Regions from separate parts of the Homo sapiens genome. Here region 1 is linked to region 2. Evidence: fine-mapped expression QTL. A gene starts in region 2. The other region holds a variant in brackets. All regions are shown on one strand. Distances are between the middles of the regions.

Region 1 (13,063 bases), 130 kb before region 2:
GCACAGTGCCTCTCCCTCAACACCCCTGCCTGGCCCTCCTGCTGCCGTGTGGCTCCACCTCCTCCCTGCAGCCTCCACTCCCTCCTCTTGCCCACCCCCGACCCCACCCCGGAGCAGCTGCTCTCCCACTTGGTATTGTCTGGCTCTGTCCATCTGACTCCAGGGTCCAGGAGAGAGTGGAGGCTGCGCCTGCTTTGTTTCTCTGGCAGTCAACAGACAAATGCACGTGATGACGCATAATAAGGAGAGACACTGTAAAGAGCGGGTGGCTGATTTAATCTTACTTAAGTTTATTTAGATTTTTTCTGCTTTTACTGAGGTATGATTGACATCTGATTTTAAATTATGAGTCTTAAAAGGAACCTTTGTCTATAACAATTAGGAAGCCTTTGGTAGCCTTTGAAAGTAGTTTGGGCACAATGGTGAGGCAGACGCTGGGTGTTTAAAATGGGCTGAGATGTGGATGGAGGTCGGGAAGGAGAGGGGAAAAGGATTCCATGTTTGCAGGTAGTGAAGGAGGAGGGGGCTGCTTCAGTAGGATGTAGTTATATTTTCTTTTTAACTATGAAAACAACATGATTTTAAGCTGTGAGAAGGGAGAGCAAAGATACCTTTGAGAGAAAAACAGATGGGGGAACAAAGTCACCCTGGAAGGGAAAGGCTGGAACTGAGAACCAGGTACAAGTCCTTGCTATGGGCCCAGAGTAAGAGCAGGACAGAGACCAGGACCTGGAGCTTAGATCAGAGAGACAGACGTCAGGAACCAGCCCACCCGCCTGCACCTGGGCAACAGCAACAAAGCGCTTATGGGATCTTGGTTTCTCTGGTCCAGGTGGAATGTAGCTCTATAGCTGTGATCTTTAATTTAATGGCTGGTCTTACCTTATAAATCAGTATCCAAAGGGGTGGTTCCACAGTTTGAAAAAGAATAGGACCAAATAACCAGAAGTGCTGGTTAAAATGCTCCCCAGAGAGCAGAAAACACAGTTGTGGGCAACATGTCTCTAAGCAGCACAATAAAATGCTTCTGTGAAGTGGGTACTAAAGAAGTGACAAGAGCTTCTGATTAATTCAAATCTAGCTTAGCTCCTGCTCTGTGAAATGTATCCTGCTTGTGTATTGGCTTTAAGGAATAGCTTCAATATTTATTTCATCAGATTACATAAATAATGTATATATGCTCAACACGGACATTTTGGAAAATAATAAAGCATGACAAAGAAAATGTAAATGGTCCATGGTTCCATCAATCAGTTATAGCCATTACTAATATTTTCTGTATTTCTTCTCCTCTTTGTTTGTACAATTGATCATACTACAGATAGTTTTATTAGTTTGTTGTCCAGGCTGAAGTGCAGTGGTGCCATGGCAGCTCATTGCAATCTTCAGCTCCTGGGCTCAAGTCATCCTCCTAACTCATCCTCCCAAGTAGCTGGGAACACAGGCATACACCCGCCACACCTGGCTAATTTATTTATATATATATTTTTTGTAGAGACGGGGTCTTGCTCTGTTGCCCAGGTTGGTCTTGAACTCCTCTGCTCTAGTGATCCTCCCACCTCGGCCTCCCAAAATGCTGGGGTTATGGGTGTGAGCCACTGCACCTGGCCTACAAATACAGTTTTTAGCCTATTTTTTAAATGTATATTATGAGCATTTTCCCCTGTCACTAAATATTCTTTGAAAGTGGCACTGTCAATTCCATTGTGTAGATGTGCCATGATTTAACCAATTGTATAGTTTTTCTTCCCTTTGTTTGCATTTATTACAATGTGGCCGTGAGTATCCTTTGCTTGAAATTTTAAAGAATTTTGCCTGATAATTTCCTTAGGAGAGAGTCATAGAAAAAATTATTATCTCAGAGGATATAAATGCACTGAAGCTTTTGACATGTATGGCTTCAATTTTTTTCCCAGAGACTTTGTGCCAATTTATCTCACAGTGATAACATATGAGAGTGGCCATCACACAGGGGCCTAGTGAGGACTGAGAACTAGACAGAAGAACAAGTAAACAATATATCATGGCCAATTTGATAGGTGAAAATGACCTTATTGTTTTAGTATATGTAGCCAATGCGCTCAATGTTTCCCTAGTTCTTAGTGCCAGCCTTGTCCATCCAGGGTAACTGTGTTCCCCCATCTGTTCTGTCTACTTCCTTCTCCTTCACAGCTGACTCTCTGATTTCACAGCTTAAAATCATGTTGTTTCCATATCTTAAAAAGACATATAACTGCATCCTATTGGTTTTTTCCCTAATTGCTTATTTGTTCATATTTTAAACTTCCTCACGTTTAATTTTATTTAGTAGCAGCCGGGTGTGTTGGTTCACACCTGTAATCCAAGCACTTTGGAAGGCTGAGGCGGGTTGTCTAAAAGTATGACACTTACATTTAATATATAGTACCTAATAATAATGATAAAGACTATGCTGCTGGTTTATGTATTCACTACATAATGCTTCTTATCATTATTATTATTATTATTATTATTTTTGAGACAGAGTCTCGCTTGGTCACCCAGGTGGGAGTGCAGTGGTGTGATGTTGGCTCACTGCAACCTCCGCCTCCCAGGTTCAAGCGATTCTCCTGCCTCAGCTTCCCCAGTAGCTGGGACTACAGGTGTTCATCACCACGCTTGGCTGATTTTTGTATTTTTAGTAGAGACAGGGTTTCATCCTGTTGCCCGGGCTGGTCTCAAACTCCTGACCTCAGGTGATCCTCCCACCTTGGCCTCCCCAAATGCTGGGATTACAGGCGTGAGCCACTGCGTCTGGCCCCCATCATTATTTTAGAGTGTATTCCTTCTACTGTAAAAAAAAAATGTTAACTGTAAAACAGCTTCAGGGCGGTCCTTCAGGAGGTATTCCAGAAGAAGGCATTGTCATCACAGGAGATAGCAGCTCCGTGTGTGTTACTGTCCCTGAACACCTTCCAGAGGACAAGATGTCGGAGGTGGGGCTAGGTGCTGTGGCTCATGCCTGCAATCCCAGCAGTTTGGGAGGCCAAGCCGGGAGGGTTGCTTGAGCCCAGGAGTCTGAGACCAGCCTGGGAAATATCATGAGACCTGTCTCTTCCAAAAAAAAAAAAAAAGAAAAAATTAACCACCATGGTGGTGCACACCTGTAGTCCCAGCTACTTGGAAGGTTGAGGCAGGAGGATTGCTTGAGCCTGGGAAGTTGAGGCTGCAGTGAGTTGTAATGGTGCCACTGCACTCCAGCCTGGGTGACAGAGTGAGACACTGTCTCAAAAAAAAAAGATGAGGAGGTGGAAGACAATGATATTGAGCATCCTGAATCTGTAGGCCTAGACAAAGGTGTGTGTTTGTGTCTTAGTTTTTAACAAAAAAGTTTAAAAAGTAAAAAGAAATTAAATATAGAAGAAAGCATATAGAATAAGGACATTGAAAAAGAAAATATTTTTGTACAGCTGTACAATGTATTTGTGTTTAAAGTGTTATTACAAAAGAGTCAGAAAGGTTTAAAAAATTTAGTTTATAAAGTAAAAAAGTTACAGTACGCTGGGCATGGTGGCTCACGCCTATAATCCCAGCACTTTGGAAGGCTGAGGCGGGCAGATCACTTGAACTCAGGAGTTCGAGACCAGCCAGGCCAACATGGTGAAACCCCGTCTCTACTAAAAATACAAAAATTAGCCAGGCATGGTGGTGGACATCTGTAATCCCAGCTACTCGGGAGGCTGAGGCATAATAATCGCTTGAACCCAGGAATAGGAGGCTGCAGTGAGCCGAGATTGCGCCACTGCACTCCAGCCTGGGCAACAGATTGAGACTCTGTCTCAAAAATAAAAAAAGTTACAGTAAGCTAAGGTTAATTTATTATTGAAGAAAAAAGTTTTTTTAAATAAATTAATATAGCCTAAGTGTACAGCGTTCACAAAGTCTATGGTAGTATACAGGAATGTCCTAGACCTTCCCGTTCACTCACCACTCACTCACTGACTCATCCAGAGCAACTTCAGCCCTGCAAGCTCCATTCATGGTAAGTGCCCTACACAGATGTACCATTTTTTATGTTTTATGTCGTATTTTTGCTCTGTCTTTTCTATGTTGAGATATGTTAAGATACACAGATTCGGACCATTGTGTTACAATTGCCTACAGTATTCAGTACAGTAGGAGCAAGAGGCTGTACCATGTAGCCTAGGTATATATAGTAGACTTTACCAACTAGTTTATGTAAGTACACCATGCTGTTTGCACAATGACAAAGTCATCTCACAATGCACTTCTCAGAACGTATTCCCTTCATTAAGTGATGCATGACTGTATTCTGCTAGAATGAGGAAAGAAAGGAATTACCTCAGGTAAGATGATACTTTTTTTTTTTTCTTTTTTTTGAGACAGAGTTTCGCTCTTGTTACCCAGACTGGATTGCAATGGCGCAATCTCAGCTCACCTCAACCTCTGCCTCCCGGGTTCAAGCGATTCTCCCACCTCAGCCTCCTGAGTAGCTGGGATTACAGGCATGCACCACCATGCCTGGCTAACTTTGTATTTTTAGTAGAGACAGTGTTTCTCCTTGTTGGTCAGGCTGGTCTCAAACTACCGACCTCAGGTGATCCACCCACCTTGGCCTCCCAAAGTGCTGGGATTACAGGTGTGAGCCATTGCCCCGGCAAGTTGATACATTTTAAAGGAAGAATTGCAAAAATCCACAGCTGTCTACTTTTATAGGAGGCAAAGGTTTGATCTGAATGGAGTTCCCATTAGTAGGAGGAGATGACTTTGTTAGTATCCCAACGTTTTCTTTATGTTTTAATTTCTTATATGCCTATCCATTTTTTTTTTTTTTTTTTTTGAGACAGAGTCTTGCTCTGTCACCCAGGCTAGAGTCCAGTGGTGCAATCTCGGCTCACTGCAACCCCCGCCTCCCCGGCTCAAGCAATTCTCCTGCCTCAGCCTCCCACTATGATTACAGGTGCCCGCCACTGCACTCGGCTGATTTTTGTATTTTCAGTATAGACGAGGTTTCGCCATGTTGGCTAGGCTTATCTTGAAATCTTGACCTCAGGTCTTCTGCCTTTTTTTTTGTTTTTCCATCAGACAAACAGCGACTTTGCCTGCAAATACCTGTCCCTGCGGAGGTTTCCAGGTGGCCCTTGCTGTATGGGTGGGCAGGGGCCTCAGGGGCTGGGCCCTCACATCCTTGGCTCACAAGTGACCCTGCTCAGTCCCGCTTACCTGACCTCATTCTCGGGGAAACCTCATTCTCGCTTGAACTACAGGGAAACAGCCGGGAGGTTTGATTCTGTTAGTCATGTTCTGTGGATTTCAGCTAAAAGGCTTGACCAAGCATTGATTGCCCAGCAGAGCTTTCCAGAGTAGTTACCCAGTGAGTTCATTTATTCCTCAGCAGCCGCCTTGAGGATGGGGGATAAGTAAGGTCTGGTCCCTTCTCTCAAGGAGGGTTTTGAGCAGCCCTATTTTTTCACAGCACACTCCCATATTGTTCTTACCCTCAGAAGACAATCAACATATGGGGGCGGTGGTTCCCACTTAGATAGCCACCCAACGTTTACCTTGCTTTTCCTTCATCCCCCCCCCTCCTGTCCTCCTTGCCCCTTTCACGTGGTACCTTCTCAGCTGTAGTCACTGTTAGGTCCAGCAGAAACACCTACTCTGTTAACACGAAAAGTTGGTGCTGAGTGGTTTATTCAGTTTCCACTTGATATCGCCCCAACATTGCCCTATAGCAGGTTTGTGTGTCCTAAAAGCTGCAAAGAACATCTTAGGATCTGGCTTCTGACAGCCACCAAGTTGAAATTTCATCCCTTTCAGGGCTCACATAGAGATGGAGAGAGATGCTGGAATTCCACCGCAGTTTCTATTTGAACGCAATAGAGTATGGATTTAGAAAATAACATCTGAACCTCATTTAGAAAATGGAGCTCTTCCTAAACCTCTTGGCTATGGTGGGGACCTCTTCAGATGGCACTGTAGTATTAGCAGTGCTGTGTTGGGCTTGGCTTGACGGTGCCTTTCAGCTATTACTGAACCTCTGCTTGGAAGACTCTCCTCTTGCGCTGCCAGCAAGAGTGCCTCCTCCCCCACTGTGTCTCTCCCCTCCTCCCCTCCCTGCTGTCTGGTGTCATTCCGAGCAGTGAGCTTCCATTAGCCTTCGTCCTCCAATCATTGTCACAATCAGGGCATTTTGTTTTGTTTAAGAGACGGTCTTGCTTTATTACCCAGGCTGGAGTACAGTCACATTATCATAGCTCATTGCAGCCTCAACCTCCTGGGATCAAGCGATTCTCCCACCTCAGCCTCCCAAGTAGCTGGAACTACAGATGTCTGCCACACACCTGGCTAATTTTTAAATATTTTGTAGGATAGGGTCTTGCTTTGTTGCCCAGGCTGGTCTCCAACTCCCAAGCTCAAGCAATCCTCAGCTGAGCATTTAAGAGTCCTGGTATTAATAGTTGATAAAAACTTAGTCTAATGATTTTCCCCTTGAACATTCCACTTACTATTCTGTTTCAGCATTTTTTCCCTATGTTTACCTACCCATGAATAGGATTTTCTACCTCTTTTTTTTTTTTTTTTTTTTTTTTGAGAAAAGGTCTCACTCCGTCACCCAGGCTGGAATGCAGTGATGTGATCTCGGCTCACTGCAGCCTTGACCTCCTGGGCTCAAATGATTCTCCCACCTCAGCCTTACACGTAGCTGGTACTACAGGCAGGCACAACTGCACCTAGCTAATTTTTTGTTTTTTTGTAGAAACAAGCTCTCACTATGCTGCCCAGGCTGGTCTCAAACTCCTGGGCTCAAGCGATCTTCCTGCCTCGGTCTCCTGAAATGCTGGGATTACAAGTGTGAGCTACCATGCCCGGCTGAATTTTCTGCTTTTGAATCATACTCCTTACAGTTTATTCCCCATCATTGTTAGAAAGCATGTTTTGCCTGGGCGCAGTGGCTCACGGCCTGTAATCCCAGCACTTTGGGAGGCTGAGGTGGGGGGATCACTTGAGCCCAGGAGTTTGAGACCAGCCTAGCCATAGTGAGACCCCATCTCTACAAAAAATACAAAAATTAGCTGGGCATGTGGTGCACACCTGTAGTCCCAGCTACTCTCAGGAGGCTGAACTGAGAGGATTGCTTGGGCCCAGGAGGTCAAGGCTGCAGTGAGCTGTTATGGCACTACTGCACTCCAGCCTGAGTGACGGAGCGCTCAACTGTGTCTCAATTTCTTTTTTCCTTGAGACAGAGTCTTGCTCTGTCACCAGGCTGGAGTGCAGTGGCATGATCTTCGCTCACTGCAACCTCCGACTCCCGGGTTCAAGCAATTCTCCTGTCTAAGCCTCCCAAGTAGCTGGGACTACAGGCATGCGCCACCACGCCCAGCTAATTTTTGTATTTTTAGTAGAGATGGGGTTTCACCACGTTGGCCAGGATGGTCTTGATCTCTGGACCTCGTGATCCGCCCGCCTCGGCCTCGCAAAGTGCTGGGATTACAGGCTTGAGCCACCGCGCCTGGCCCCTATTTCAATGTTTTTGAAGTTTTTTTTTTTTTTCTTCAAGCGTGGTTTAA[A/G]AATATGCAGTTTCAGTATATTCAGAGTCTTACGCTCTTTATAGTTTTATTTTCAAACAAAACCACTTCTTTTTTTTTTTTGAGATGAAGTCTCGCTTTGTCTCCCAGGCTGCAGTGCAGTGGTGCCATCTCGGCTCACTGCAACCACCACCTTCCAGGTTCAAGCAATTCTCTCACTCAGTCTCCCGAGTAGCTGGAACTACAGGCACCCGCCCCTACACCTGGCTAATTTTTGTAATTTTTTTTTCGTAGAGACAGGGTTTCACCATGTCGGCCAGGCTGGTTTTGAACTCCTGACCTCAAGTGATTTGCCTGCCTCAGCCTCCCAACGTGCTGGGATTACAGGTGTGAGCCAATGAGCCCAGCTCCACCTCTTTCATGTTTATTCATTCTATAAGAAGCAGAGCAGTTCGTAGACTGTCTTCAGGGGCTATTAATTACTGGAGCTATTCTTCACAGGCTTGAGAAGTTATGCTTGCTCTGAGTCTCTATAAGTGGATTCATTTTTGCTGAGAGTGAGGAAAGTGGGTTAAGAAGAAGGAGTACATCATTATCTCATGAGTAGATACTTTCCTGGAAGGAAATTCATCAGTTGGTGGACCGTGGAATTTGGGAAGCCCCGGAGGAATATTGGTCTATTTATTAAAACGCTGACTTAATGGTTTATTCCTGATGATGGTTGTGTGGTCAGTAGCTCATTCTGGGGAGCTACTGGCAGCCTGGACCTAGAGAAGAAGCCTGTTTATGAACTACAGGTCGAATATCCCTAATCTGAAAATCTAAAACTTTTTCTAAAAATTTATATTTATTTTTTTGAGACAGGGTCTTGCCCCTATTACCCAGGCTGGAGTGCAGTTGTGTGATCGCGGCTCACTGCAGCCTCGACTTCCCAGGCTCAGGTGATTCTATTTTTAGTAGGGCTAGGGTTTGGCCATGTTGCCCTGGCTGGTCTGGAACTCCTGATCTAAAACGATCTGCCCACCTCAGCCTCCCAAAGTGCTGGGATTACCAGCATGAGTCACTGTGCCTGGCCTGAAAATCCAAAACTTTTGGGTGCCCACATGAGGCTCAAATAAAGATCTGTAATTTCAAATAAGGGATATGTCATTGGTAGAACAAAGTGAACTGGGTCGCACAGACTTTGGCCTCATTAACTCCTTGTTACTTACGGTATACTGTTTGACGTCGCGTATTTCTAATTCTTTGTTTGCAGCCTGAAACCAAAACATCAAAAGGTCCTTCAAAGAAACATAAAATTCTGTATGTGTCTTATGGATATATGTTTAATATATCCATACCTATATATACGCAAAAGTAATTATTTGATGTTGAGGGTAAAGTTGCTGAAAAGTGTCAATGGCTCTAGAAATATTTTGTATAAAAGGATCAGGACTATACAACACATTTAACTGTTGCAAGTAGATTTTATGTCCGCAGAATAGAAATAATCTCATCCCCAGACACCTCCGGTCATATGTTCAGTAATGCCCCCCACCTGCCATTAGCCATAATCAGGTTCACAGGTGTGTAGTGAGCTGAAGATAAGACACATCGGCACAGTGTGCTAAACATTTTTATTTGTAATAAGACTAAATGAAACCTTTATTGCCAATAATAAACTTACCCGGTGCCCATGGCTTCTTGGTCCTCGCTGATACACATAAAAAGCTGATGCACTTATTTATTAAATTACTTATTCATTTGTTTGGGTAAAACAATAAGCTGATGCTAATCTTGGGCTGAAACAACTTTCCTGAACAGGTTATGTGGGTCATGAATTTATTTTGGACACGAGACCCTTCAAAAAGTCTGCAAATATTGAGGCTGTGGATGTGGCCAAGAGACTCCAGGATTATGGTAAGTGGCTTTTGACATTCATGCCGCCGCCCATGCTGGCTGTGGACCACTTCCTAAAGCACAAATGGAAAATGCAGGCACCACAGTAAACTGATCTGGGGGATAAATGGGGAGCTCAGGGTTCTTGGCAACCTCCAAAATAATAGAGAAAAAAGTTTGCTTATGACTGCACTGGTCCTGCCCTTCAGAAGATATTAAAATATGCATCTTGAATCCATTAACAGCCAAGAAAAGTGTTTAAGATTAAAATTAAAACCCCTTTGAGTTGCAGTGAGTGTAGTGGTAAAGGAGACAGAGCAAGTAACCCATCGAAGTGGTAGAGACAAATGGCATTGGAGTTTTATAGCCACCTCTGTCATGGCGTAGCTGTTTCAGCTGCTTCTAGAGATGAAGAAATAAGTGTAGTAGTTTTCACAAAGAAAATGCAACTTTCTTTGAAGCATTTTGAAAGACACGGACACTTTACCTGTGCATTAGTGGGTGTTCATTCAGCTCAGCTCACTACATTTTCCTAGTGAACAATGTTATTAATATTAAAATATTAAGACCATATTACTTTTTTGGGGGTTGGGGAGACAGAGTCTCACTTTGTCGCCCAGGCTGGAGTGCAGTGATGTGATCTCAGCTCACTGCAACCTCCACCTCCTGGGTTCAAGTGATTCTCATGCCTCAGCCTCCCACGTAGCTGGGACTACAGGTGCACACCACCATACCCAGCTATTTTTTTATATTTTTAGTAGAGATGGGGTTTCACCATGTTGGCCAGGCTGGTCTCAGTCTCCTGAGCTCAGGCAATCCACCCACCTCGGCCTCCGAAAGTGCTGGGATTACAGGTGTGAGCCAGCACGCCCAGCCAATATTACTATTATAATAATATGAAAATGATAATAATATCAAGGATCTTTCAATTCTCAGAAAGGCTAAGTTGGGGAGAACATTGCCATTCAATGGATATGGAGTCCTCTCTGAGTTTTAATGACTTGTTTTTGGAAAAAAAGAAAAAAATCTTTTAAATTTAATAGTTTCACTACTGCATCATAATGGGAATCCCATGTGTGTGACTCACTCCTCTCTTGAATGAATGATCTTATTATGCAGTTACACTGATAATAGATGGGAAAGCCAGAGAAAGGCTTCATTAATGAAATTACCAATCCCATCCTCAAGATCTCTGCTTGGCAACTCTTGTAACCTGACAGTAGAACTCCTTTCCCCTGACAGCCTCCCGGCTAGCGATTGGGTAATGGCCGACTCAGGAAAACACACTCACTTTGTGGATGCCTTGCCTACTTCACACATCTAACTGCAACAGCATTTGCAAGGAGAGAGAGGAGGGGCTCACAGGGAGGTGGTAACTGAAGTCACCACCCAGTGTTTCTGAATCATGTTGTCTCCTGACCTCAATGTTGTTTTGAAGATTGATAGAACCGTTTCCACACTTGTCCAAAAGCCCAGAATTGTCCAGGTGCCTGGCACATAGTAGGCACTCAACACATAGTGTTAATAAATGAGAGACCAAATGAATAGCTAAGTCGAAAAACAATGAACATGACAACACAGTTTCCAGGTCTTAAAGCATAACCGCTGAATGTGAATTTTTAAGGAAGAGAGCTGATAATCTGTATATTTAACACGCAGCTTCTGTGTGAGTCTTTTCAGGCAATTTTGGGGCATACTGCCTTACCCAGCAGTTCCAGGCTAATTATCAGACCAATTATCAGAATCACCTGGCATGTTTTATGACTCATAGATTTTTGGACCCTACCTTGGACTTCCTGAATCAGGGCCCAGATGCAGGAATTTCTTTTGCAAGAACTTCTCAGGTGGTTCAAAATATGGGGACCACTACAGCAGGATATGTTGGACTGAATTTGCTCACACATGGAATTAAGGGCAGACGTGATAGGTAATCAGCTTGTTCTCTTAAAAAAAAAAAAAATCCCTGTCTGGTTTGAGTGACAAAGGTGTATGCATTTACCAAAACTCATTAAATGGTACAGTTAGGATTTGTGCATTTCACTGTAAGTTTTATCACAAAAATATGTGAACAGATACTGAATTCTAGTCATGATATATATGCTGAAGGGTTTAAGAGTGAAGTGTACTAATGACTGCAGTGTACTTTGAAATGCGTCAGAAAGTAAGACGGATGGCTGGATGAGTAGATGTGATAAAGCAAACAACAGCATTGTAGAATCTAGGTGGTGGGTATATGGGTGCTCACCTACAGTCCTTTCAACTCATCTGGATGTTAGTGTTTTTTTTTTAATAGAGACAAGGTCTTACTCTGTCACCCAGGCTGGAGTGCAGTGTTGTGATCTTGACTTACTGCAGGCTCACCTCCTGGATTCAAGTGATCCTCCCACCTCAGCTTTCTAAGTAGCTGGGATTACAGGCACATACCACCACACCCAGCTAATTTTTGTATTTTTTGTAGAGACGGGGTTTTGCCATGTTGCCCAGGCAGGTCTCAAACTCCTGGGCTTAAGCAATCCGCTGGCCTTGGCCTCCCAAAGTGCTGGGATTATAGGTGTGTGAGCCACAGCACTTGGCCTGAACATTTTTAAATAAAATGTTGGTAGAGAATGTTTGAAATCATGCAGATGTTACTTTAAAGTACTCCATGTAATAATGATGCTCACCAGAATTTGAGAACCACTGCACATTGGGGCAAGATTAGTTCAGAGGTGTATCAACCTGGGAGTTGTTCTTCAGCTTTTAAAAGTTTCATAGGCCTGGTGTGGTGGCTCATGCCTGTTATCTCTGCATATTGGGAGGCAGAGACAGGCAGATCGCTTGAGCTCGGTAGCCCGGACAACATGGTGAAACTCTGTCTATGCAACAACAACAAAATTAGCTGGGCATGGTGGCGTGCACCTGTAGTCTCAGCTACTTGGAAGGCTTAGGTGGGAGGATCACTTGAGCCCAGGAGGTTGAGGCTGCAGTGAGCCGTGAGTGTGCCAGTGCACTCTAACCTGAGCGATACAGCAAGACCCTGTCTCCAAAAAAAAAAAAAAAAATGCTTTACAGAAAAATTATAAGAAATGAAAATGTTGTTTTTGATTTTTGTCCTGGAAATCTGTCTCTTGACTACATACCTTGTTGCACTACCTTACATGTGAAAACCTTTGGAAACAGAAACACACTGAGCCTGTGTTCAATGTAAAGGCAAAGGCTTTCCACATACTGGCCAAACTTCAGTTTCCTTATCATACAAAATGGGGACAATAAGATTTGCTCCAGAGTCTTTAACACTTGTTATCTCATTATTTAACTTTTGATAAGCTATAATATTTTTATTTCTCTTAATTGCACATAATACATGATAATTACTGAAAGACTCTAAAATACAATCGAAGTGAAAGAAAAATCCCAGTCTCATTTTCCGGCCATATTTAGAGTTAACATTTTATGTTTTCTTCAAGGCATCTTCCCTCATAAAATACACATATAAGTACTTTGTCCTTTTATTTATATATAGAAATGGGATATCATTATGTGGCTTGCTTTTTTCACTTAATATTTTTGAATGTTTAGCCAGTTTAACACATTTATGTACTTTTGAATGGTTGTCTATTTACCATATAGGTGCTCTGTAAAATTTGCTTATCTGATCCCCCATTGTTGGATATTAGGTTGTTTCCTAAATTTTTCTT
Region 2 (16,395 bases):
CTGACTAGGGATGCCAGTGAAGGGCAAAACAACTTTCACGTATCCATCACATATTATATATGTGTGTATTATATATGTTATATACATCATATATAATATATACATAGATATTCCTTTAAATAGGCAAGTACTTTTATATTCTGTGTGAAAACCAAGTGGGAGAGGCAACTTTTTTCTTCAACTATAGTTCATGCCCCACATTGTTATCTATTTTAAGACCACCTCTATAGTGGTAAGGAGTGAAAGAATGACGAGAGAGAATCCTTTAAAATAGGAAAAGCTCTGGATTCTCAAAAGATTTAGGCCGGGCGCGGTGGCTCACGCCTGTAATCCCAGCACTTTGGGAGGCCGAGGCGGGCGGATCACGAGGTCAGGAGATCGAGACCACGGTGAAACCCCGTCTCTACTAAAAATACAAAAAATCAGCCGGGCGCAGTGGCGGGCGCCTGTAGTCCCAGCTACTCGGGAGGCTGAGGCAGAATGGCGTGAACCCGGAAGGCGGAGCTTGCAGTGAGCGGAGATCGCGCCACAGCACTCCCGCCTGGGCGACAGAACGAGACTCCGTCTCAAAAAAAAAAAAAAAAAAAAAAAAAGATTTAGAGATCCACCAACATAATCTCTTCCTTAAAAAGACCCAATCCCCCGCGTGCCTCAAACTCAACTTCCCAGATAAGAATGTTCACAGCATGTTATCCTACTCTAACCAAAACTTATAGCCCTGAATTGCAGGTCTCCATTTTGACCCTCAAATGTGGAGTCAAGGCTGGGCACGGTAGCTTACGCCTGTAATCCCAGCACTTTGGGAAGCCGAGGTGGGCGCATCACCTGAGGTCCTGTCCTAGATAGAGACCATCGTGTCCAAAATGGTGAAACCTCGTCTCTACTAAAATACAAAAAATTTGCCGGGAGTGGTGGCGCACGCCTGTAGTCCCAGCTACTTGGGAGACTGCGGCAGGGGAATCGCTTGAACCCGGGAGGCAGAGGTTGTAGTAAGCCGAGATCGCGCCACTCCAGCCTGGCGACAGGGCAAGACTCCGGCTTAAAAAAAAAACAAAAACAACAACAAAAAAAGTGGAGTCAATTAACACTGCCTTCTCCAACTTCACCTACATACAGATCACCTGGAGATCTTGTTAAAATACAGATTCTGCTTCAGTAGGTCAGCTTCAGTAGGTCTGGCGTGAGGATTTCAGGTAAAGCTAATGCTGCTGGTCCTGAGAATCCAGGGACCATACTTTGAATAGTAAGAGACTAGTGGGAGACTATCTATCAACATTCATTTTCTAAACTCTGGTGTTATCAGAATCTCCCGTGGGGTCTTGTTAAATTCAACTACTTGCAGTTCTGGGGTGAGCTGAACATCTATAATAAATATCCACAAGCGATTCTGATACATACCAAAGATTAAAAGCTGGAGCCTAACATACGAATGGAGTATGGGGGGCGGGTACCACTTAAATAAAAATAAATGTATTGTCTACAATTTATGACATTTTTCACTACGTGGCAGTAAAGTATTTTGAAGTAGGGGTACCTTTTTCCAATGAGGACATGGTATTTTACAGGACGGGGACTCTCTGTGATGCCATTCCAGTAGTTACCTGCTACAGGCTGGCTACCTCATCTGTGGAGCTCCAGAGACCACGAAAGATAACACTCATTGCCATAGCTACTTGTCAGCGCATAAGAAAGTGAACACACAGCTGGTACCAATGACCTTCCTTTTCTGTTTCCAAGTTAATGGCTGGCACCAAAGGTCTATTCCTCTACCCTACTGGTTTATCACTGGGCTGAAGAAACCCAAGTAGTGAATTACCCACTAGGACCCTGGAAGAGGAAGTACAACGGTTATCCTCAGTTTTCCCTGGAATCTGGAATGAGCTTCCTAGTTTACTGAAAGTCTACTTTGTTGCCTTGAATTTAACCCAATCCCATATGTGATAATTATTTTAGCATATTTGATAATAAAGATTTTAGGAGTGTTGCCCAAGAACATCCTTCATTTCTATCTCTGGTGCTGAAATCACCAGTGTCCTAGGAATTCATGTACTATTTGTCCCCAGCTAGAAAATAAAATGCATCAAACGATTACATGCTTTTTCACTTGTGATCAAAAGGAAACGGTATCAGCCACTTGAGGCACAGCAAAGCAAATCTATGTAGTATTTAACAAGTGTACAATTATTTCAAAAGCAAAGCTTACAACTAAATACCTGTTTTTACAAGTCAAACACTAAGAAGTCAGTACAAAACTGGCTGCAAACACAAATCAAAGGTGCTATAACATTATTTTAAAGAGAGAAGGAAAGGGGAAAAAAAAGCTCTCTCCTTCCCAAAGTGTAATTTGTTACTATGAAATTTCTGGACAGTCTTCGAAGACTAAGCCTGTGAAGGGGAGGAAAATATTCCTTTTAAGTAGTTTGCAACTGTAGGCTACTTCTACCAAATCAAAGAGCTACACTTATTTAAAACCACAGGATTGGAGCCAAACTGTGGTCTATCAACTCAGGATGCCAACTTTTTAGTGTATTAACAACAACATGAAGACAAAGAAAAATACGATGGGTCTGAGTGGCTAGGGATATAGATTGTAAGAGACTTGTGGAATAGGAAAAAAACTTAGACTGGCCAGACCATAAAAATACCAGAGATGCCCACAGACAGCCTTCAAGTATGCACCGCTGGCTATGCTGCAGTGCTATGCTTAAAGCGTGAACGACATGAGTATTAGAAGGCGAGAAGTAAGAAAAGCAAACAGTCTTACACTCCTTTTCACTTCGGGAATAAAACTCTTGGCTTATATAGGGCATTCGTAAACCCGGCCCCCGGTTAAACCGACAGTTTCTTCATGCCCAGGTCTCTAACCTCCCTCGAGACATTCCAAACCTAGGAAAGGCGGCGAGGGAGAGGGACCAGAAGTTCTGGAAACCCTTCGAATCTTCAGTTTGCGCGAATCCTACCACAGTCAGGAAGCAGAGTTAGGGTTCTTATTCTTGAGAGCTCAATGCCCGAGTTTCCCCTGTTTGAGAGCCGAAGACGCGGAAGAGCCGCGGAAGCCAGGCGAACGCTCAGCCGGGTTAGCCAGCTCTCCGGGTCTCCCGCGCGGTGGCATGGCCGCCAGAGCCCTCTGCCCTCCCCGCCCTCTGGGGGCCCCAGGCCCCGCCGAGCGCGGGAAGCGAGGGACCTGGGCACCCAGTGCCTACGGCCGCTGTCCTACCAAATACAAACGGCGAGATATTTGCGCTCCGGACGCCCTCACTTCTGACCCCGCGCGGCGCACCTCCAGTTGGGGCTGGCAGGGACCCACTCCCCACCATTCGGCGGGACTGGGCCCCGCACCCCGCGCCTCGCGGGGGCTGCCCACCCGCAGCGGAGCCAGGTGAGCCCTGCGCGCGCGGCGCACAGAGCCCTCGGACCGGTGCGTCCAGAGGAGCCCAGCTGTTCCGGCCCCCAGCCTCGCTAGGGGCGCGGCGGGCGCGCCTCACCTGCTTGCCCCGGTAGAAGAGGCGCTGGCATTCGGGCCGCACGTCGAACAGCGCCCACACCCGCTCGCGCAGCTCCTCAATCGTGGCTTTGCGAGACACGTCCTCAATGGTGCACGTCTTGGAGCCATCAATGGTGCGAACCTGTATCCACATCTTGGCGCCTAGAGAGGAACCGGTCCCCTTTGTCTCCCCCTGAGCTCTGGGCGCCGCGCCCCGCCCGGCCCGCGCCGCTTTCCCTGCGGCTCGGGCCCTCAGCGGCAGGCGGGCGAGCGCGCCCACCGGACCGACCGGACGCCGGGCCCGACAGGCGGCGACGACTCTCAGCGCGCGCGCCCGACTAGCCGACTTGAGGAGAGACGACCGGAACCACTCTGAGGCGCTGCCGCAGACACCGCCTCAAAGATAGGAAGAGGCCATGTCTGCGCCGCGCAGAGTGTTTACTTATAGAGCTGGAGCTCCCACATGGAGGTCACGGCGCCAAGCCGGATCTCGCGAGATCCACGCCGGGCTCCGCCTTAAAGAGGAAGCGGCCCGGGAGAGGGTTACAGACCCGAGGGAACGAAAATGGGCAGGCGCGGAGAGGGCGGGTCGGAGGGGCGGGGCTACCAAAAGCCGTTACTTGCCCCACCGCCTGCACCTGGCCACTGGGCACGCCCTCTAGCCTTTGGGTTTCGGAAGATTGCGCGGCTACCACATCGGTTGCCGTTTTGAGGCCTCGTTTCAGAGCTGAGGGGGCGGGTGCCTCCTCAGGCTTAGCGGATATGGTTCTTTGGTCTCAAAAACACACCAAAAATAAGAAACCCTGGCGTGCACTTGTATAATCCTGGAAAGGGGGCGCGGGTGGGTGCGGCCTAAACTTCCGAGAAAGAACTGAAGGAAATGTGTGCGCTCCACCGCGCTCAACAGGAAAGCTCCCGCCACGCGGCCTGGCGGGTCGGGTCGCCCGGGAAAGGCCCCGGGGGCCCTCCTGCTTCGCGAACACGTTTCCCGCCTGGCCGCAATGCTACTTTCGCGCGGAAACCCACTTCCGAGGGTTTCCCGTCGCCTGGCGGAGGCGGCAGCTCCAGGCCTATCCTCAGGCCGCGGGTCCCGCTGGGATCGCCCTCTCTGGCTTGCAGCGCTCCCAGCCGGCCCTCCGGCCTTGGAGAAGTCGGGGCAGCTGCCCGAAAGGCCGCTCTCTAACTCCGGACATTTCCGTTCGTAGACTTTCCGCGTTAGGGGTGCCTTTGGCCTAAGGGATTGCGGGTTTGCGGGAAACAGTTTTAAATAATGCAGAGCTACGCGCCTCCGAAGAAAGAACTCCAAAGACCCTACTAGGATTAAACCCTCAGAAGTGGGCCCAACGCAGCACTACCTAACAGGGCTTCCCCCACCCCCCACCCCGCCTTCTTAATCCTTCCCTGCTACAGCTGGGGAGTCGGGGTGGGGGTGAGTGGGTTTATTTTATTTTATTTATTATGTATGTATGTATGTATGTATGTATGTATTTAGAGACGGAATCTCTCTCTGTCGCCCAGGCTGGAGTGCAGTGGCGCGATCTCGGCTCACTGCAAGCTCCGCCTCCCGGGTTCACGCCATTCTCCTGCCTCAGCCTCCCTGGGGTAGCTGGGACTACAGGCGCCCGCCACCGCGCCCGGCTAATAGTCTCGATCTCCTGACCTCGTGATCCACCCGCCTCGGCCTTCCAAAGTGCTGGGATTACAGGCGTGAGCCACCGCGCCCGGCCAAGTGGGTTTATTTTAAATGAAAATATGTCTTCTCAAGAAGGGAGAGAGGATATAAACGTAAACAAAACAAGACAACTTGGACTTCACATTTGCCAAAATCGGTAACTTAAATATTCACATAGGTGCTAATTATTCCCATAAAGGTACAGTACCATTTTTTTGTAATAAACTAATAAACAGCTAAAATAATTACAAGCACAGACAAATCCAGTAGTATATCATGAAAAAGAAGAGAAAGGCCGGGCGCAGTGGCTCAGGCCTGTAATCTCAGCGCTTTGGGAGGCCGAGGTGGGCGGATCACTTGAGGTCAGGAGTTCCAGACCAGCCTGGCCAACATGGTGAAACCCCATCTCTACTAAAAATATTAAAAAACTAGCTGAGCATGGTGGCAGTTGCCTGTAGTCCCAGCTACTCGGGAGGCTGAGGCAGGAGAATTGCTTGAACCCGGGAGGCGGAGGCTGCAGTGAGCTGAGATCACGCCACTGCACTACAGCCTGGGCGATAGAGTGAGACTCCATCTCAAAAAAAAAGAGAAAAAAAAGATGGCCCAACACAGAAGAGACAGAAAAAATTAACTGCACATACATATTTTGGGTTTCTGCCCCTGTGAAAATTTCAGTCACCTAGAACCTCTAAATATAATTCACTTGTCTACCCCTATTTTAATTAAAGCAAATATTGAGTATTTATTACATATGTAAATGAGATGATATTTAGGTTGGTGCAAAAGTCATTGGGGTTTTGCCATTTCTTTCGGTGGCAAAAACCACAATTACATTTGCACCAACCAAATCTACCTAAAGCACACTTACTACCTACCTCAATAAGGCGAAACTATTTATTATAAGGTTATGCTATTTACTATTATAACGTTATACTATGGCTTTGTGGAGTTACGTTAGGATTTTTTTTTTAGTTACCTCTCACAAAACAAATTACAATCTAGTTGAGATAAGATTTAACAAAAATAAAATATTAAAGAATAACTTAGTACTAAACACTGATGTTGGCGCAAACCATGATTACAGATGAGAGGAGAACTAGAATGATTAAGAAAAGGGGAACTAGAATGATCTGGAAGCTTAAAAATAACTGTACAACTTGACACGAGTTATGTGATACATTGTAGTAGGAGGCAGCATTTAAATGTTCAGTTCATGGATTGAGATAGACCGGAATTATAATCCCAGTTTTACTGCTTGCTTAAAAATGTGATCTTGTACAAATAACATCCTCAATTTCCTCAATGTAAAATGGTGCTTGAAATAACCTAATGATTGTAAAGTGGTTTGCATACTATCCCTTAGTAGTACACAATAAATTATTTTAGTACTGCTGTTATGGAGAAGATTTAGATAAACAGAGTATGCCCAAAGAGGAAAGAGTGCTTAAACAAAGACAAAAAAGTGTGCATTTTTTACAGGTCAGAAGAGACTGCAAATCAGAGAATGGTTGACTAAATAGAAAAGGGCAGTGTGTGAAAATTAACATTCAAAGCAGATGATTTTTGTGGGCCCCAGGGAAAAACTAAGATTTTTAAGGAGTAGATGGATGTAATTAAATATGCATTTGAAATAATAGCAAAAGGAATCTGGACAGATGCCTTAGGGAAAAAGTAAGGAAGAGGGACATGAGGGGAGAACTTATTGTCAGAAAGTTTACAGAGGAGGCAATTGTGTCAGTTTTGGTGAAATTAGTGGCGGTAAGTAGGAGAGGAGAGGATGTATTCCAGAGTATTCTAGAAAATTGAGCCTATAAAACTTGTAGGATTGTGGATATAAAGGATGAGGAAAATGGAATGTTGAGAACAGTTCCCAAGTTTCTAGCTTAGGAGATTTAAATTGATGGCTCGAGCAGATGGTGATGCTCTGAACTTGTAGAGGAGGCAAGTCGGGAAAATACAATGAGTTCCAAATGAGCTGTGTTGCATTTGAAATGCATCCAAAATATAGCATCTGTCTAGCTGGAGATGTCTAACTGACCACTGGAAATAGAAGTTTGACGTATTGAAGAGAAATAGGAAAGTTCTTAAAGAGGGACTTTTTAAGACCTCCTGTACACACTCTTATGAGATTTATCTTTCTTAATGTGATGGGGCTTTAATGGAGAACTGCAGGGGTGGGGAGGGGATAAGATGACTGTCTCAAAATTAGGTATCTACTGAGACTGTATAGGATTTGTGTATAGATCCCAAACAATCTATATTGTTAAGCACAGAGTTTAGAGATGTAAGACTCAAAAATGATGTATTTGTCCTGCAGACCAAATGAATTACATCTGGAAACATAAATTTACATATGCAGTAGGCGACTTAGGGTATAAACAAATAACTGCAAGTAATGATTGTATATGTAACAAAACACACCCTTCCTGTGTTTCTCCATGTAGTACTGTGTACTGTTTTCTCTCTTTGCCTGCAATACTGTTGTTGTGTGCTTAGGCATCTGCCCAGTTGTAAAAACAAAATAGTTCTCTGACAAAAACAGCAATATTAGACAGTTGGGTTTTTTTTTGTTTGTTTGTTTGGTTTTGAGATGGAATCTCACTCTGTTGTCCAGGCTGGAGTGCAGCGGTGCAATCTCGGCTCACTGCAACCTGTGCCTCCCAGGTTCAAGCGATTCTTGTGCATCAGTATCCCACGTAGCTGGATTATAAGCATGCACCACCACGCCTGGCAAATTTTTGTATTTTTAGTAGAGACAGGGTTTCAACATGTTGGCCAGGCTGGTCTGAAACTCCTGGCCCCCAAGGATCCACTTGGTTCAGCCTCTCAAAGTGTTGGGACTACAGGAGTGAGCCACAGTGCTCAGCCAAGACAGTTTTGGCATATCATACCTTACTACCAAGTGTGTAGCTGAAACCATTTGGATATGAACAGGGAAAATAAAGAGAAATTATTTACATGGATGAAAAGCAAATACTAAAGTTTGTACCATCAGTCATGATCCAATATTTGTTCAAGTCAAGAGGCAAAACAGAAAAAGGTTGATTGTAGAACAAATTCCAGAATCTTATACTTCAGAATGTCTTGTTTCTTAACTACTGTCTCAAAGCCAGTAACTTATTTTTAAAGAATGAATTACAACCTATCCTCTGAAGCTATGATTAATACCTTTTCATCTGCCCTTTTATGTTGGATGTCTTCCTTTTTCTCCTCCAGGGCCACTCTCTACCTGTTTGCAGTCCTAGAGTCCAAGAGTAGGAAGAATATAGAGGCAGTACCCTCAAGCTTCCAACTGAGGTTGACCAACGGGGAGGGAGCACAGACAAAAACCTGCATGATACGAAGAGAATGAGATCAGGATATTCCCGTGGCTTTCTCCCTGCAAGACCAAGTCAGGCTGTCTCTTGCCTTTGCATGATGTCACTTGTCCTCTTCAGGTGACCTGCTCCACGTGACTCGCTCTTCCATGTTCTGGTAACCTATCTTTCCCTCCCCTGTTGCTTTGGGTTCAGGGGTTGTTACATATTTGCAGTCGCTAGTCCTAGATGCATGCATATTCTTTCCATTCCCTATATCGTGTTCCATACTCTTATCATTGGTCCCATGGGGCGGGGAAACCATTAAATTCTCTTAACTGGAGGATTTGGATTATAATCTCTAATGCTATTTTAGAAAGGACTACATGTTACAAGAAATGCACTAGAATTTCCATTGGCTAAAAAGCACTTAATATGGTTGCTCATTACTTAAATTAGTCATATTAAATTAGTCAAAGTGTGCTCTTTCTTTTTAATAGAATCACATATTTTTACTATGAAAATCTACTTTAGAGCTCATTCTGGTCTAACCTTCTCTTTAGCAAATGGTGAAATGATTTGCACAAGGACATGTAACCAATGAAAGAGTGTTAAAGTTTAAACCTCTGGTCTCCTTCCTCCCTGGCCAGTGTTCTTTAGCTTTCAATTGACCCTCTTGTTTCTCTGGAGGCTTCCCCTTGAACTTTGTCCAAATAACTTTGAACTTTGTCCAAAGAATAAACTTCTTTTCTGCAGTGAGTGACCCTGGTTCTTTGGACAATCCGATAGCTCAGGTAGGAGTGGGGACCTGGGATTCTCACTAAAGACTTGCAATGTATCCCCATTTTCAATCTTATGCCTTCCTCTGCCTTCTGCAATTTGTCATTCCTATTGCCGAACATTTCTGAGGGTCTTTGAATCAATTAGCTCATTTCTTATACTGATGACAGTGTTTAACAAAATTTAGGAGGGCTGGGCGCCAGTGGCTTACACCTGTAATCCTGGCACTTTGGGAGGCCAAGGTGGGAGGACCACTTGAGGTCAGGAGTTCAAGACCAGCCTGGCTAACATGGTGAAACCCTATCTCCACTAAAAATACAAAAATTAGCCAGGCATGATGGTGCTTGCCTGTAATCCCAGATACTCATGCCTGTAATCCCAGCTGAGGCAGGAGAATCACTTGAACCCAGGAGACAGAGGTTGCAGTGAACTGAGATCCTGCCACTGCACTGCAGCCTGAGCAACAGAGCGAGACTCTGTTTAAAAAAAAAAAAAAAATTATTAGACTGATCCTCTACTAACCCCCAGCAGACCAGACCAAACCAGCATGGAGTCACCTGTGCTAAGTGCCACATAATAAAACTGAACTTTGAAAGGGGCTAGTTTTCAAATAAATAAATAAATAAACCAGGAAATTCATAGCAACACAGCCACCAATCAGAGGGGCCCCAGTTTACCTGAGCCTGCATGATAAGAGAGTTCACTCTAGGCCAGGTATGGTGGCTCACATCTGTAATCTCAGCACTTTGGGAGGCCAAGGCAAGCGGATCACCTGAGGTCAGGCGTTCGAGACCAGCCTGGCCAACATGGTGAAACTCTGTCTCTGCTAAAAATACAAAAATTAGCTGGGTGTGGTGGCACACGCTTGTTGTCCCAGCTACTTGGGAGGCTAAGGCAAGAGAATCGCTTGAAACTAGGATGTGGAGGTTGCAGTGAGCTGAAATCGTGCCACTGCACTCCAGCCTGGGCAACAGAGCCAGACTCTGTCTCAAAAAAAAAAAAAGTTCACTCTGTTTTAACCGTATGAGGAAAGTAACTTTGAAACGGTCAATCTGCTTTCTGCTTTCTTCAGCCCTTTGCCTATAAAGCCAACCCCCTCTGCTCAGCTTGGAAGAACACCCATTCTGTTTTATAGAATGAGATGTTACCCAATTCCAGAATCACAAAAGAAAGACAATTAGATCTTTAAATTTGTTGTAATTTTGTGTGTGACATCATTTAGGGTTCAACATCCTAATGATGGGGTTAACTTAAGGTTCAACTTCCAGTTAGGTTGTCACATGCAACTTACTTTGCAAAAAAAATTTAGAGATTTATAATAAAAGTACTTTACTATCTCTAACAGTTTCTGTGGAGCGGGAGTTCAGAAACGGCTCAGTTTAAAAGCCTGAATCTGGCTCAAGGTCTCTCATGCCAGTATCATCAGATGGGGCCAGAACTGGAAGAACAAGGACATGGTTAGTTAGGACCTAGCTAGGTCTCTCTCTCTGTCTCTCTCTCTCTCTCTCGCCCCCCGACCCCCGTCTCTCTCTCTGTCTCTCCTCTTTCCTGTCTCCTCTCTCTCTTCCTTTCCTTAAGAAGTCTCAGGATCTCTCCATGTGGTCTCTCTCTGTGGGCTAGTTTGGACACTCACAGAATTGCCACCTCAGGGGCAGTCAGACTGCTTACATGGTGGTTGAAGACATCAAAGACGGGTGAGAATTCTAGTGAGCAAAGTGGAAGTTGTATGACTTTGTGTGGCTTAGCTTTGAAAGTCATATAGTGTCATTTCTTTTTTTTTTTTTTTTTTTTGGTTGGTGTTGTTTGTCTGTTTTGAGACAGGGTCTCACTCTGATGCCCAGGCTGGAGTGCAGTGGCGTGATCTCAGCTCACTGCAACTCTGCCTCCTGGGTTCAAGCGATTCTCCTGCCTCAGCCTCCCGAGTAGCTGGGATTACAGGCACACCACCATGTCTGGCTAATTTTTGTATTTTTAGTAGAGACGGGGCTTCACCATGTTGGCCAGGCTGGTCTTGAACTCCTGACCTCAAGTGATCCGCCTGCCTTGGCCTCCCAAAGTGCTGGGATTACAGGCATGAGCCACCACGCCTGACCACAGTGTCATTTCTATCATATTCTTTTGATCAAAACATTCACAAAAGCACTCTCAGTTTCAAGGGGAGTAAATAGAGACCCCACATCTCAGTGGGAGGAGTGTCAAAGTCACTTTGTAAGAAGAGCACATGGGATGGAAGATATTATTGCAGCCAATTTTGGAAAATAGAATCTGTTGCACAACTCTTCTATCTAATTTTTCAATCCCTTTTTAGTACAACCACAGAGTTTTAAAATTATGAAATATGGGCCAGGCATGGTGGCTCATGTCTATAATCCCAGCACTTTGGGAGATAGAGGTGGGAGGATTGCTTGAGCCCAGGAGTTTGAGACCAGTCTGTGCAACCTACAGAGACCATGTGTCTACAAAAAATTTTTTTAAATTATTCAGATGTGGTAGTGCACATCTATAGTCCCAGCTACTTGGGAGATTGAAGCAGGAGGATCGTTTGAGCTCAGGAGCTTGTGGCTGCACTAAGCCATGATTGTGCCACTACATTCCAGCCTGGGTAACAGAGCAAGACCCCATCTCTGAAAAAAAATTATGAAATATATTAGCCATATTTTAAAAGGTAGAGAGAATAATATAGTAAACACTCTTGTATTCACCACCTTGCTTTAGAAATGTTTCGAATAGTTAAAACCCCTCTCTGCTTACATTCCCTTTTCTCTCTCTTTTCCAAAGAGATAAACATTGTCTTGAATTGGGGATTTATTATTGTCATGTGCATCTTTATACTTTTAATATGTGTATGTGTATTTCTAAACAATAATAAATTTGGGTGTCTTTTTAAACTTAACATGATTTTTTTATAACTTTAAAACTTGCTTTTTTAAAATCATTATTAGTTTTCTGGGATCTGTTCGTGTTGACGTGTAGCTCTAGTACAAACTTTTTCTTAAAGGGTCAGAGGGTAAATATGTCAGATCTTGAAGGCAGATGATCTGTATTGCAACTACTTCATTCTACAGTTCTACAAAAGCAGCTCCACTCAGTATATAAATGAATGAATAAAACTTTGTTCTGACAAAACTTTTTTTACAAAAATAGGTATCAGAGTATAGGATGTGGCCTGTGGGCCACAGTTTGCTGACCCTAGTTCCATGGCATTCATTTTTACTAATCTATCATATTCCATTGTTTAAGTATACCATAATGTAGTCATTCTCTCTTCTCTCTCTCTCTCTCTTTAAAGATGAAGTCTTGCTCTGTGGCCAGGGTGGAGTGCAGTGGCACGTTTCTAGCTCACTGCAACCTCAAACTCCTGGGCTCAAGTGATACTCCCACCTTAGCCTCCGAAGTAGCTAGGACTACAGGCACATGCCATCCTGCCTAATTTTTTTTTTTTTTTTTTTTTTGGTAGAGATGAAATCTGGCTATGTTGCCCAGGCTGGTCTGGAACTTTTGGGCTGAAGCCGTCCTCCCGCTCCAGCCTCCCAAAGTGCTGGGATTATAGGCATGAGCCACCATGCCCAGCCAATCATTCTCTTTTTGATGTATATTCAGGTTGTTTCTATTTTTTACTCTTACAAACAATGTTCTAAACATTCTTGTACATTCCACTGTGTGCAGAGTTTCTCTGGGGTAGAGATCAACAAGTAATCCATAGGCTTTTCATCTTCTAAGGATGTGTTAGTATCTTGTTTCTGTTCTTTTGAATTACATTAAATATTCCTTTACTATCATTTAAATGAGGTTTTTGAGCAAGAGTTGAGTTAATCTAGCATATTTCTCATATTCTTTAATTTTGTTATTTCCCTTAATTATTGAGTACACAGTAGATCATCTTTAGTCCAATAAACATTAGGTTGAAACTAATGACTATTGCTTTTGGGTTTTGTTTGGTTGGCTGTTTTGTTTTGTTTGAGATATGATTTCGCTATGTGGCCCAGGCTGGAGTGCAGTGGTGTGATTAGGACTTACTGCAGCCTCAACCTCCTGGATTCAAGTGATTCTCCTGCCTCAGCCTCTCAATTAACTGAGACTACAAGTGCACACATCACACCCAGCTAATTTTTTTGATTTTTATTAGAGATGAGTTCTCTCCATGTTGCCCAGGCTGGTCTCCATCTCCTGAGCTCAAGCAATCCTTCCGCCTCAGTCTCCCGAAGTGTTGGGATTACAAGCGTGAGCCACTGTGCCAGCTGACTATTGCTTTTGGCAAACTTAATGAGTCCATCTTGCTCCCAATTGCACTGTCATTATAAGCAGTACTTTCACTTTTTCTATTTTCTACTAAGTGGTATAAAGTAATATATACAAAATGCAACAAATTATCTAAGTAATTATCCAAATAAATCCCATTATAATATAATAAAATGATGATATTAGTAAAGCTAAACTGTTTGGCAGGCAGGCAAGGATTTCAGGGCTTCGACAAAAATGCATTTTTAAAAAGGTGGGCAGAATTTTCCTTGCTCTTGTTGATACGCAAATGCTTTCTCAAACTCCTGACCTCAAGTTTTTTTTGTTTTTTTTTTTTTTGTTTTTTTTTTTGAGATGGAGTCTTGCTATTTCACCTAGGCTGGAGTGCAGTGGCACAATCTTGCATCACTGCAGCCTCTGCCTCCCAGGTTCAAGCGATTCTCCTGCCTCAGCATCCCGAGTAGCTGGGACTACAGGTGTGTGCCACTGCTCCCTGGTAATTTTTGTATTTTTAGTGGAGATGGGGTTTCGCCGTGTTGGCCAGGGTGGTGTCAAACTCCTGACCTCAAGTGATTCACCTGCCTCGGCCTCCCAAAGTGCTGGGATTACATGTGTGAGCCACCAAACCCAGCCTCAAGTGCTTTCCTTTGTAAATTGCAATACAATTTATAACCCGTCAAACTTGTCTCCATGCACATCTCAGGATCTTCTGGCAGAGTATTTCTTACCCAAGATAATCTGTCAGTGTACTATGTGGGTCTAGCCTCGACTTATTCACACAGTGACTGGATAGGGTTCTAAGAGAGCCAGTGGAAGCCTCCAAGGCCTCTTGAGGTCCAAGACTGGAATTGGCACAGGATCACCTCAACAGATTTTATTGGCTAAAGCAAGTCACAAGGCCAGCCCAGATTCAAGGAGAGGGAAAATTGATTCTTCCTCTTGATAGGAGGAGCTGCAAAGTCTCATTGCAAAGGAGTGTGTATATTGGGAGGGGAATAATTATGGTCATCTTTTTTTTTTTTTTTTGAGACAGAGTCTTGCTCTGTTGCCCAGGCTGGAGTGCAATGGCGTGATCTTGGCTCACTGCAGCCTCCTCCTCCAGGGTTCAAGCGATTCTTCTGCCTCTGCCTCCTGAGTAGCTGGTATTACAGGCACGCACCACTACATTTGGTTAATTTTGCATTTTTTTTTTTTTCTGAGACAGTGTCTTGCTCTGTCGCCCAGGTTGGAGTGCAGTGGCGCGATCTCAGCTCACTGCAAGCTCCGCCTCCCAGGTTCATGCCAATCTCCTGCCTCAGCCTCCTGAGTAGCTGGAACTGCAGACAGGTGCCCATCACCACGCCTGGCTAATTCTTTGTATTTTTAGTAGAGACGAGGTTTCACTGTGTTAGCCAGGATGGTCTCGATCTCCTGACCTCATGATCTGCCCGCCTCGGCCTTCCAAAGTGCTGGGATTACAGGTGTGAGCCACTGTGCCCAGCCTGGTCATCTTTATAATTAATCTAAAACACCATCTCTTCCTAACCCTAATTATAATAGATTAATAGATTACTCATTGATAACCTTTTATAGCTTTGGTAACATCTTGTCCTCTATTTTTCATAATCTTTCAATCCCTCAGTCTACCACAAATTATTGTTGTGAGTATGTTTCATACATTGCTGGTTCAGGCTGAATTTTGCAAAAGAAATCTGAATTTTGAAAAAGAAATCTATTGAAAAAGAAATCGGCATATAAGTGAACCAATACAGTTCAAACCTGTGTTGTTCAAGGATCAACTGTATTGTGATTTTTTAAAAGCAATTTTTATGAATTGCTATTCATAGCAATTACTATTAATTTTAAACAATCAAAACAATAATCCTTAATGTCTTTCACTATGATATATTCTGAGGAGTCACTCAAGAAAATATATAATTTTCCCTTAGTTAGGCTTAGAAAAAATTACACTGAGTCACAAAGGTTAAGGTAGATCAAAGTTTACCAGCATTAACTGGTCATCGGTATCTTTTTGGCTGATAAGTATTGGTTCACTTATATGCAGATTTCTTTTTCAATATAACACAGATAAAAAATACAGTATTGGAGGGACTCGAAATCCACTTATATGGAGGACTGACTTCAAATATGCACAGGGCCTACAGTGGGATTTGAGCATGTGTAGATTTTGGTATACATGGGAGTCCTGGAACCAATACCCTGTAAACCCAGGGATGACTGTATTTAGTTTCTTAAAATGTGTCACAAATATGTACAATTTTAATAATATGGGTGAACAACAACCTAATTAAAAATAGGCTCAGTGGGAGAGGGGCAGAGAAAAAAATAGGCACAGGCCCTTCACAAAAGAGGACATCTAAATGGCCTCCACACCTATGAAAAGATCCTAAATATCACTATCAAGGAAATGTATGTCCCGCTAGCATGTGCTAATGATTAGAAGGCTGATAATATTGAGTATTAGCAAGAATATAGAGCATCTGGGACTTTCATATATTGCTGGTGGAGTGTGAGTTGATTAAACCAAGTTGGAAACCTGCTGGGTAGTTTCTATGTACCTAGTCTAGGAACAATTCTACTCGTAGCTATGTATGCAATAGAAATTAGTGCATATGTCCAATAAGGTACAAGAATGTTTGTAATAGATTTAGTTGTAATTGGCCCAAATTGAAAACCACCTAAATGTCTACAAATACGAGAATGGATGAGCAAATTATAGTATATTTACATAATGGAATACTACATAGCAACAAAAAAGAATGAACTACTGATACACACCACAACATGAATTGATCTCTAAATCATTACACTGAGTAAAAAAAGCATATTCTGTATGACTAACTTCATGTAAAGTTCAGAAATATGCAAACTTAATTCATAGTGTTAGAAGTAAAAACTTTGGGGAGTGGAGAAATTGGTCGTAT

What was found. PIP is the estimated chance that this variant, and not a neighbour inherited with it, causes the effect. A credible set is the group of variants that fine-mapping cannot tell apart.
Region 1: its variant is the best candidate, but not a certain one, in a credible set for the expression of UHRF2 in whole blood (TOPMed, PIP 0.51).

Annotation. Positions count from the first base shown.
Region 1 is chr9:6,536,395-6,549,457 of GRCh38, reverse strand. GLDC (glycine decarboxylase) reads left to right here. Exons shown (of 25, transcript NM_000170.3): 22 at 9,312-9,407. It also overlaps the pseudogene RN7SL25P. Among named protein-coding and RNA genes, the nearest start is that of GLDC, 100 kb to the left of the region's middle. The variant A/G (reference allele first, on the strand shown) is at 7,551.
Region 2 is chr9:6,400,734-6,417,128 of GRCh38, reverse strand. UHRF2 (ubiquitin like with PHD and ring finger domains 2) reads right to left here and starts at 3,930. Exons shown (of 16, transcript NM_152896.3): 1 at 3,486-3,930. The coding sequence starts at 3,638. RefSeq lists silencers at 3,113-3,542, 3,613-3,792, 4,073-4,212.